2 separate regions of the Homo sapiens genome follow, and region 2 is linked to region 1. Evidence: fine-mapped expression QTL. A gene starts in region 1. The other region holds a variant in brackets. All regions are shown on one strand. Distances are from middle to middle.

Region 1 (5,375 bases):
ATTTCCGCCAGCATCACTCCCCGGTGCCTATGGGGTCCCGGTGTACCTAAAGGGAGAAGGACCCCATGTGCTAGCCAGAAATATACTGTCTCTTGAAGGAAAGCAGGAGCTCAGACTCTTAGAGCCAGCTGTGGCTTCGGACCCAAGGCCTGACCTAGGCTGCTATCCTAATATTGCAGGAGGGGCCTCTCTTCCAAGCCCCACCCTAAGGGTTAGCCCTTGGCCAAATCTTTTGCCGTCTAGGCCCAGCCAGGCTTTTCTGACTAAATAAGCAATAAGAGGCTCTAAGCTGACTGAGTTGCAAGGACCCTTTCCGCCCTCCCTTGGATCTCCATGTTTTTCCAGATGGCGGAAGAGCATGTGCCACCCCCTTTCCTAACAGACTTGTCCAAGTGCTTGGCGTGGGACCCATGACCAAAGCCCAGGATGGCTTGGTGGGAGTGTCCCTGCTGCATCTGCATGAAGCCCCTGCTTTTTAGGCCTCACTCCCATCAGAACCCTGCCTGCCCACCTGCAACTCCCCCCCAACAATGCCATTCCCACTTGCCCCAGAGAAGCTACTCGGCCAAACCTAGCCAGGGTCTGTTCTTGTGGACCAGAGCCAGCCTAGTCATTATTTGCTGTCGGGTTTCCAGTTTCACCGTGTGTTAGGGTGAGGGATGATTGTAAAATTTGCTCCTCAAAGGAATCAGGCCAGACTCAATTTTGGAGGGCAAGACAGGGAGGAGGCCGCTTCATCCCAGACTCTCTTCTAGGGCTTCCCACCATCAGCCCCTCCCACTTGAGACTGGTCTTTGGGAGGCAATAGGCCACCATGCCTGGTCAGCACCAATTCAAGCCATGCCAGGAATCTGCCTACCTGCCAGGTTCAGTTCTTTTAAGGTGCCTCTTCAGGGACACAGTGTGTCTCTCTGATTGGGCTTCTAAATCAAAAGCCTGATGTTCGTGTCCCTCTCATAGGGGGAGCTTTGGACACAGGACCAGTTTGGAAAAGGGTCAGGTAAGGGTTTCCACTCTGCACATTGTAGAGGGAACACTCTGTAGGCCCATGGGTCCCTTACTAGAGAGGTTGAGTGAATTTGCCTTCAGTTAACATGGGACCTTCTGTTTAGCTTCCTCTTGCTTCCCAAAGATTTTAAGCATTTTGTAAATGTATAAACTCACCTCTGGTAACAGTGGCCCAGACGCTGCTTTGTGCTAAAAGCATGGGAAATGTAAAGGCAGTCTTTCTCTGGGAAATGGATGCTATTCTATTCTGCTGCCCCTACCTGTTCCTGAGGCCTCATTTAGAAAGAAAATCCCCTCAGAAGGCTGTCTGGCACCCAGTGTCCTAGCCAGGCCAAGTATATGAGAAAGGTAAGTCCATTTTCCCCTTCAGGTCCTCAGTGGATTACTTAACCACTGCTGTCCCTCGGTCCCTTTTTCCTAAACGGGTTTAGTTCTGTCTTTTTTCTCCTTTTTTCTAAATGCTGGTAAATATTTACATTCAGCCAGGGAAGAGGAGGCCAGAGGTCGGGCCAGCTGCCCCATTCTTTTAACGTTGTAGGGCCTGCCCATGGAGCGGACCCTCCTCTTTGGGCCTCGTGAGCTTTTTTGCTTATCATGTTCCATTTCGTGCCGCTTTCCCCCTTCAAGATGCCATTTGGAGGGTAGGGGATCTGCTTCCCACTGTGACTGGGCTATGGGATTCTGACTACCTTGCTTACAGATTCATGGTTTGATAAATTTGTTGTATTCAAAAACTTGAAATGCAGGACGCCATTAAGTGTCTGTTTATATTTTTGGAATATTTGTATTACTTACAATTAATTAATAAAAGTGGGTTTAAAAAACCTTTCCAGGAATGTGAGCTGCCACCAACCTTCATTGGCCCTTAAGTGTTCACTGGGCCCATGGCAAGCACCGCCTTTCTTCTCGCAACCCCTTCCATCATGAAGCAGCTGCACCCCCGGGCTGAGTGGGGTGTTGCACCCACCGGGAGGCCAGCTGCAGATGCCACACAGGGCTTCCGCTCAAGGTTACACAAGTTCTGCTGTGATCAACCCCATTGCAGTCAGGTGCTTAGCACGTGTATATGCTTGATGTCCTATTGACTTCTGGGCATGAACCAGAAGCCCTAAGGGAATGGATTATTATTTTTTTTTTTTTTTTTGAAATGGAGTCTTGCTCTGTTGCCCAGGCTAGAGGCAGTGGCATGATCTCAGCTCACTGCAACCTCCACCTCCCAGGTTCAAGCGATTCTCCTGCCTCAGTCTCCTGAGTAGCTGGGATTACAGGCGCCTGCCAGCACGCCCGGCTCATTTTTGTATTTTTAGTAGAGATGGGGTTTCACCATCTTGGCCAGGCTGTTTTCAAACTCCTCACATTGTGATCCACCCACCTCAGCCTCCCAAAGTGCTGGGATTACAGGCGTGAGCCACCACCACACCCAGCCCTGGGAATGGAGTCTTGATTCTTCTCTGCCCCTCACTGATTCTTCCAAACTGGAAACCCTGAAGCTGAGAGCCCAGCATGGTTCCTGGCAAACAGCAGGCACTCAAATATTGATTGGTTTACTGTATGACTAGTAGAGACCCCAACGAGCAAAACTGTGGCCTAATAAAATTCTGGCTCCTCTCCCAGACTTCCCCTCCCTTTGAGAAATGCCAGAAGCTTCTTAGGGAGGCTCTTGCCAACCTAGACATCACAGGCACTCATGGGGCAGCTCCAGCCTCTTCCTCCTGTCATCACCATAATGCATCCATATCTACAATATGGCAAATTTCATATCCTTCCAACCTCTTTCCTGCATTATTGATGGGCTGTGTGCACTTTTTAAAAAATCAATTAGATCAGGGCGTGGAGCTGGAGTTCAAAGAAGCCTTTAAAAGTCTGCTCTTCTGTTTTGCTGTTTTGAATAGGCACAGATAAAGCTTTCCCTCTGGTTTGAATAAGCCAAGCTCAGTGCTAGGTTGGCTCTGATTGGCCAGGACTAGGAAAATGCGGTTAAGATGCAAACACAAGCAAATATAACCCAGTATCTCTGCGGCCATTACTAAGCTAAGGCAGCAGGACCTGGAGCCTCCTGCTTTGGAGTGGTTCTTCAATACTGCTGCTGCTTACGCGCCGGGAAACTGGGAAGGCTGGTGAGCGAGAAGGCAAGGTAAGGTCTCTGATTTACGGGGGCATGCCAGTTAATCCTCCTGAATGAGGAAGAAATGAAAGGAAGAGGAGCTTGAGAGTCCCTTGGCTTTGTCTTCTGAGATGAGGCTTTTAAAATGAACCAGGAGTCTGGCTGGCCAGTTTTGCAAACTTCTTGTTCAGAAGAACCCCTTAGAGGCAGCTGAACATATAGGGCACATTTTCAAAAGCTGGGAAAGACAGACCCCTTTCACCTATCCCTAGAGAAAGATGGTATGGAGCAAGGCAGGAGGAGTTAAAACCAGCTTCCTGGCCCAGAGAGGTGGCTTACACCTGTAATCCCAACACTTTGGGAAGCCAGGGCATGAGGATTGTTTGAGCCCAGGAGTTTGTAACTTGTGACCATCCTGGGCAACATAGTGAGACCCTGTCTCTACAAAAAAAAAAAAAAAAAAAAAAAAAAAAAAAGCCAAGCATGGTGGTGCACACCTGTGGTCTCAGCTTCTCAGGAGGCTGAGGCAGAAGGATCACTTGAGCCCAGGAGGTGGCGGTTGCAGTGAGCCGTGATTGTACCACTGCACTCCAGCCTGGGTGACAGAGCAAGACCCTGTCTCAAAAACAACAACAACAAAAAACAGCTTCCTCTGCTCAGGGTCCGTCCAAAAGGGCATCTCTGAGAATTACAGGCCACTGGCTTTTAACCTGACATTTCAAAACTGTGCCCCACACCCAAGGGGTTTCTGCAGTCCTCTCAAAGGATACTGAATTAGGATTTAGGGAGAAGGAGAGACCCAGCTTTGGGAGATTTGATGTCAGAACTGTGTTTTCTGTGTGTTCCAGTGTGACAGGAAGTCCCTTCCTGGAGCTTATCCTCTCGCATTCGGGGTGCCTGGCCCAGGGAGCTCCTTGATTCCTAAATTCCTGCTGGGAAACGGGACAGGTTTCAGCCTCTGAGGCTCACAGTCCTAATTGCTGCCGGCTGGTTTGGCTTTTACCAGGGTGACAGTTCTCTGTCTCCAAGGAATGAATTCAGTGGCCCTTGTCCCCTTCCCCTAGTTGGCTCATGGCTTTTGCCTTTAATGACTGCTACGTAGGGTCTGAAGAAAACCCAAACACCATATTTCCTGGCAATTCTGAGCAGCACAGGGTGGGGCAGCACAAGTTATCAAATTAAATTCTCAAACACTGGCTGCTCCGCACCATTGCCTTGCTTTAGTCCTGCTACAGCAGTAGACAAAGCGAGTCTGCTTTGAGCTTTATGGTTTTTTGCCAAAGTCCATACTAGATGGCGCATGCTCTCCAAACTTGGCTTTGTCCATCAAGGTTCAAGAAAACAATGGTCAGACATGTTCCTCTTAACAAACAGTATGTCCCCAAACAGCAAAAATGCATACAGTCCTTTCTGGGTGAATTTTTAAATCTTACATAAATCCATCAACCCCATCCTTTTTCCTTTGCCTCTTGGGAGAAATTAATCTAGCTTTACATTAATTATGCATGTTATCAGATTTCAAGCTCCTTGAGAGCAGGTATTTTAATTCTATAAAGCCTCTACGTGGCCTTGGACATGGGTAGGTGCTTAATTACCCAAGATGCTCCTTGAATACAGATGGTACACGACCTACACAGACTTAGATCTTTACCACTTCCCCCCTCTCCCCACCCTGACTTGCTCAATCCTGAAGGAACTGGAGACGTCTAAGTGTCTGAGGTTCACGCTTCCACACAGAAGCTTGGGTCTGTGTGGGAGGGAAAAAGGAAGCCATCTGTCCGCAGGCCAGACCAGGCCACACCCTGCTAGCACCCAGAACCCTTTGTCCCAGGCCCAGCCCTGCCATTTTACTTTCCTTGCATCTGGAAAGCACAGGGAATATAGTAGTGACAAAAGAAGGAAGGGTTGTTTGAGTTTAAGAATAGTTTACTCTAAAAAAAAAAAAAAAAAAAAAAAAAGGACAAAAGCCAAAGAGAAGGTCAAAGTTGACTGTGGAGAAGGCCTTGCAAGCAGGGAACTTGGGAAGAATTGGAATGAGAGTGAGAGAAGGCAACTGAGTTTGGAAATATTTTTTCTGACTAGCTTTTCTTTCCAAATGCCACTGAACTTAGATTGGTTTAGGAAGGGTTGTAGTACATCAAAGTGGCTAGAAGCACAGGTTTGGGGATCAGATAAGGATTTCATTCTAGAGTGTGATCTTGTACAAGTTATTCAGCCTTTGCAAACCTCAGATTCACACAATGTAAGATGAAGAAACTCACCT
Region 2 (5,375 bases), 220 kb after region 1:
GAAGTGGCTAAAAGAACAGTCAGAACCCAGCCCCTAAGATGAGTACTCAAACCCAGCCTTCTTTCCCTTAAAAGGAATCATCCAAAGACCTCCCAGGGTCTTCCCCATTCTCAGGCTATCAGGAGCCTCCCTCTAAGTCCGAGCTACCCTCTTCTTACCTTGAGGTCATACTTCCTGTGCACAGGAAGACGGTGGCTAAACATATTGCGCATCACAAGCATGTAGCTGTCTTCGTTGTCCACACTGACTCGGTACATCCCCAGGAACTGGGGCAGAAGCGTGTTGCCATGGCACTTCACAATGTACTACAGTGAAAGAGGGGGAAGGAATGGGGAGAGGCTGAGTAGCAGATACACAAACAGCCCAGGGAAGTTCAAACACTGCCATTCCAGGGTAGAGCAGAGGACTTCAAGTAGAGAGATTACAAAGTCAAAAGTGGTGGAAGCTTCCCCAAAACACTCCAGGTTATCCATGCCGTTTCTGAATCCCCCTTTCCTCTGATTCCTTCCATTTGTACATCTCTTAATTTTTAAGTGTCATCTCTCAATTCACCTTTATCATTCTTTGAGATGAGGAAGGTTAAGTGTTATTATCCTTATTTTAGACCCTTTCTATATGCAAGTGGCACAGAACCAGGATTACAACTTATATCTTATCAATGAAATCATTTTATCTAGAGCAGTGTTTCTTCATAGGCTAGATTCCCATAATTTAAAATGTCTGCATTGGGTTGGGCTGTGCTGTGTCATTCTGTCACTGTAATATAAATACAGATTTTTATACCTAAAAAAAAAAAAAAGTCTGCATGATGGCCTACAATTTGGATTTTTTTTTTTTTTTTTTTTGGAGATGGAGTCTCACTCTGTTGCCCAGGCTGAAGTGCAGTGGCACAATCTAGGCTCACTGTAACCCCCGCCTCCTCCCAGGTTCAAGCAATTCTCCTGCCTCAGCCTCCCGAGTAGCTGGGAGTACAGGCGCACACCACCACGCTCAGCTAATTTTTTGTATTTTAGTAGAAGCGGGGTTTCACTGTGTTACCCAGGCTGGTCTCGAACTCCTGAACTCAGGCAATCTGCCCACCTCGGCCTCCCAAAGTGCTAGGATTACAAGCGTGAGCCACTGCACCCGGCCTACAATTTGGATTCTTTTTTAAAAATTCTCCTGTTAAGCCAGGCTCACACCTGTAATCCCAGCTACTTGGGAGGTTGAGGCAGGAGGATCGCTTGAGCCCAGGAGTTTGAGACCAGCCCGGGGAACACAGTGAGATCCTGTCTCTAAAAAACAAAAATTACTCCTTCAGTGCTTACCATCTCTCTTTCTGTGTTGCTGCCTCTTTCTCTTCACAGCCAACCTTCTCAGGAAAGTAATCAGCAAGAAATCCATTTCCTGTCTCTCATTCACACGTTGAATCACTGAAATCAGGTTTATACCTCATTTCTCCTCTGAAATCTCCCCCATATCCCTCAGTTGTCAAATCTAGTAAGTATTCTAGTCATTGTCATATTTCAGCTTTGTGGCACTTGATCCTATTGACCAGTCTCTCCTTAAAAGTCTCCTCATCCTCAGCTCTTATTATACCACCCTCCTGATTCCCCTCCTCTCTGTCGTCGAATCCCGTATGGAATGTAGCATGGCATAAATAATTAAAAGTGTCCATCTACTCTTAGTTTCCTTTATGGGCTCATTTCTTCACTTGTTCCTTTAGGTTCTGTCCTCAACCTTCTTTTCATTTCACTGCACACAACCTCCCTACAATAATCGTATCTATAGCCATGGTTTTAATGATCACTTACTCACATATAATTCTCAAACCTATACTCCCAGTCTAATCCTCTTTCCTGAATTCTGTACACATACCCCAACCACTTACTGGACATCCTCATCTGGATGAATTGCAGAAACCTCAAATTCAGTATGTCCAAATCAGAACTTTCTTCCTCCAAAAACCTGTTCCTCTGTTTCTAATTTCTGGTGAATAGGCACCCAGTTATCCCTAACCAGGAACTTGGAGGCCCCTGTGTCTTAACTCTCAGTTCTCCCATAGGTCTTCCTTTCTATCCCCACCACCATCGCTCCCCCAGGCCTTCATTGTTTCTACCCTGGACTATTAAAATTACCTCCTAACTGGTATCCACCCTTCCAGTGTTCCCTCCCACCAATCCATTCTCTAAAACGCTGTCACATTTTCTAAATATTTCTAAATAACAAATATATCACGCCCCTTGCAAAACCACCTTCAGGATAAAGTCCAAACTTCTTTGTGGGGCTTATAAGCCTCTTTACAATCTGGCTCCTGCCTATTTCCACAGTACTACATCCCATCCAAATGGAATTTCTTGCTGTTTTCTAACACCAAGTTCTCTCATGGCTCTGTGCCTTACAAGTGCTGTTTTCCTTTGCCTAGAATGCTCTTCCACCCTGTCCAATGGTTAACCTCTACTAGTCCTTCAAGGATCAACTCTTACAGTATCTCCTCTAAAAAACTCTCTTTAGCCTCCCAGGTGCATTTCCTTCCCCAGGTGAGTTCGGATGCTCTTCACTAGCTTCAGAATATTCTGTACAGACTTCTACTATTGTATATATCTTGCGGTGTGCTAATACTGGGTCACTGGTCACTGCCATCAGACCAAGGGATCTGTAAGGGCCACAGATGTTTCATTTACCTCCTACTCTACTGCCTAACATAGGGCCTAATAAGAGGTATTCAATATTTGTTGCATAAACCAAAGACTCCTTTTGGACTCTGATGTATTCCTTGCTCACTGATTTTGGTGAAATTTTTCTTCAGTAGAGATGTTCAAGAAGAGTGTTTTTACTGCCAAAACATTCCATAAACTCCACATTCCAAGTAAATCTTTTTTTTTTT[A/TTA]ATCTTTTTTTTTTTTTTTAGGCGGAGTTTTGCTCTTGTTGCCCAGGCTGAAGTGCAAATGCACGATCTCGGCTCACTACAACCTCCGCTTCCCGGGTTCAAGTGATTCTCCTGCGTTAGCCTCCTGAGCAGCTGGGATTACAGGCATGAGCCATCATGCCCAGCTAATTTTGTACTTTTAGTAGAGACGGGGTTTCTCCATGTTGGTCAGACTGGTCTCGAACTCCCGACCTCAGGTGATCCTCCCGCCTCAGCCTCCCAAAGTGCTGGGACTACAGGTGTGAGCCACTGCCCCCAGCCTGTAAATCTTATCAGACAGAATAGCTTCCCTCATCCCATTTAGGGCTGGATATGATTATGGATTCTCTCTTCCAATGAGTTTTCTCCCCAGTTGGCATCTATTACTGACAATAGCTGAGCTATATGTGAGTAGGGAGGAGAGGGAAAGAATGGGGCTAGAGAGAGGCCTGACCTGGTGATAGTTGGAGAGGTTGCTATGCATGTCAGCAATGTCCTCACTGGATACTTCTTTGATGACCAGAGTCCGATCGTAGGAGATAAGGAAGCGACCATCACTGCCTTCACTTTCGCTGGGGGGGTTTCGGGTAAGGGACACCTGGGGACACAGAATAGGCCAGAGCTCTTTTCCTCCCTCTTTATATGCAGAAACAAGTCATAGGAAAATGGTCAGCTGAAAGTGGATGAATCCCTGGGGTAGGAGATTCAGCACAGTTCCTCATCAGGTGTCCATATGTGGACTGAAGGAAACTGAATGCAAAATTCTTTTTTTTTTTTTTTTTTGACAAGGAGTCTCGCTCTGTCACCCAGGCTGGAGTGTAGTGGTACGATCTCAGCTCATTGCAACCTTCGCCTCCCAAGTTCAGGTGATTCTCCTGCCTCAGCCTCCCAAGTAGCGGGGACTAGACGTGCGCCACCACACCTGGCTAATTTTCATATCTTTAGTAGAGACAGGGTTTTGCCATGTTGGCCAGGATGGTCTCGAACTCCTGACCTCAGGTGATCTGCCCGCCTCGGCCTCCCAAAGTGTTGGGATTACAGGCGTGAGCCACAGCGCCTGGCCAAAATTCTTAATGTATCTACATCTTTTCCCCCAAGGACAAGGTTTATAATTTTCATTAAATTTTTGAAAATGCTGCAATCACAAAAAGGTAAAGAATTATATTTGCCAAGACTCTCATTTCTCCAAATATGGCTGTCCCAAATAGTACTCCTCAGTTGCTGGGGAGAAAGGGCTACCCTCACCCCTTAATGGACTCTCACCAAGTAATCTTGGTCATCAATGCCAAATCGATCACGGAGGTTCCTGAAGACCTGGGGACAATACTCCTTGAACTTGAAATGACTGGGCAGATTTTCCCTGAAATTCAGGTTTTCAAAGTAAGAAAACAAACAATATTACATTTACATACACTTGGTAGTTTATAAAGTACCTTCAGACATATTACCTCATTTGATTCTCATAAAACCCTGTGAGGTCCTTTTTTTTTAATTTTTATTTGTTATTATTATTTTTTGAGACAGAGTCTCACTCTGTTGCCAGGTTGGACTGCAGTGGTGCAATCTCGGCTCACCACAACCTCCATCCCCCGGGTTCAAGCAATTCTCCTGCCTCAGCCTCCCAAGTAGCTGGGACTACAGGCATGCGCCACCATGCCTGGCTAATTTTTTGTATTTTTAGTAGAGATAGGGTTTTGCCATGTTTGCAGGCTGGTCTCGAACTCCTGACCTCAAGTGATCCACCCGCCTTGGCCTCCCAAACTGCTGGGATTACAGGCATGAGCCACCACGCCTGGCCCTTGTGAGGTCCTATAAAAACATATTATTTCCATTTTATAGAAGAGGAGACTGTCTCAGAGTGATTCAGTGACCTGCCTAAGTAACATGGTTGGTAAGTGGTATAGTAGAGCCAGGATCTACTACCCATCCAAACAGCAGCATTTCCCAAATCTCAAGCAAGTCAGAAGCATTCTAAAGTCAGCAACAGACACCACTGTTTTGAATGGCATCTTCTTTTCCTAGGAGGGCTTAGTAGAGAATTCAAGTTTTTCTTTCAAGGAGTCCCTGTCAGAAGCTAATGGTTCTCATGGCATCTCCAAGGTCACAAGCAGAAAAAGAGAGAAAGAGCAGGTAATGGTATCTGTACATATTTACTCTATGGAATTGCCAGGCTAGAGGAGAGATAACACTGATTCATATAAGGATATAGGGAACACCAGAAATTATTCTCATGGTTTCCTTGCACAAAACTAATTTCTGCATTTGGGAAGGATGTTAAATTTTCAACTCACTGAAACTTTTAAAATTATTTATTACTCCTTTCTGGGAAGGTTGACATGAGAATGGCAAGGATCATCACTTACCTGTGGAAAAGGTGATTGTTGACCTTGATCTTGGAGCTGGCCTTAAAGTCATCTGGCAGCAGCATCACCGGGGGAGGCACCTGGCTGAGCTCATTGATCTGATAAGCCAAACCATGAATAGGGAAGCC

Evidence for each region. PIP is the estimated chance that this variant, and not a neighbour inherited with it, causes the effect.
Region 2: its variant is fine-mapped to the expression of AVIL in whole blood (INTERVAL, PIP above 0.99).

What each region holds. Positions count from the first base shown.
Region 1 is chr12:57,816,396-57,821,770 of GRCh38, reverse strand. AVIL (advillin) reads left to right here and starts at 3,037. Exons shown (of 20, transcript NM_006576.4): 1 at 3,037-3,142. CTDSP2 (CTD small phosphatase 2) reads left to right here. Exons shown (of 8, transcript NM_005730.4): 8 at 1-1,844.
Region 2 is chr12:57,593,995-57,599,369 of GRCh38, reverse strand. PIP4K2C (phosphatidylinositol-5-phosphate 4-kinase type 2 gamma) reads right to left here. Exons shown (of 10, transcript NM_024779.5): 2 at 5,248-5,345; 3 at 4,148-4,244; 4 at 3,339-3,482; 5 at 159-305. Among named protein-coding and RNA genes, the nearest start is that of PIP4K2C, 5.5 kb to the right of the region's middle. The variant A/TTA (reference allele first, on the strand shown) is at 2,867.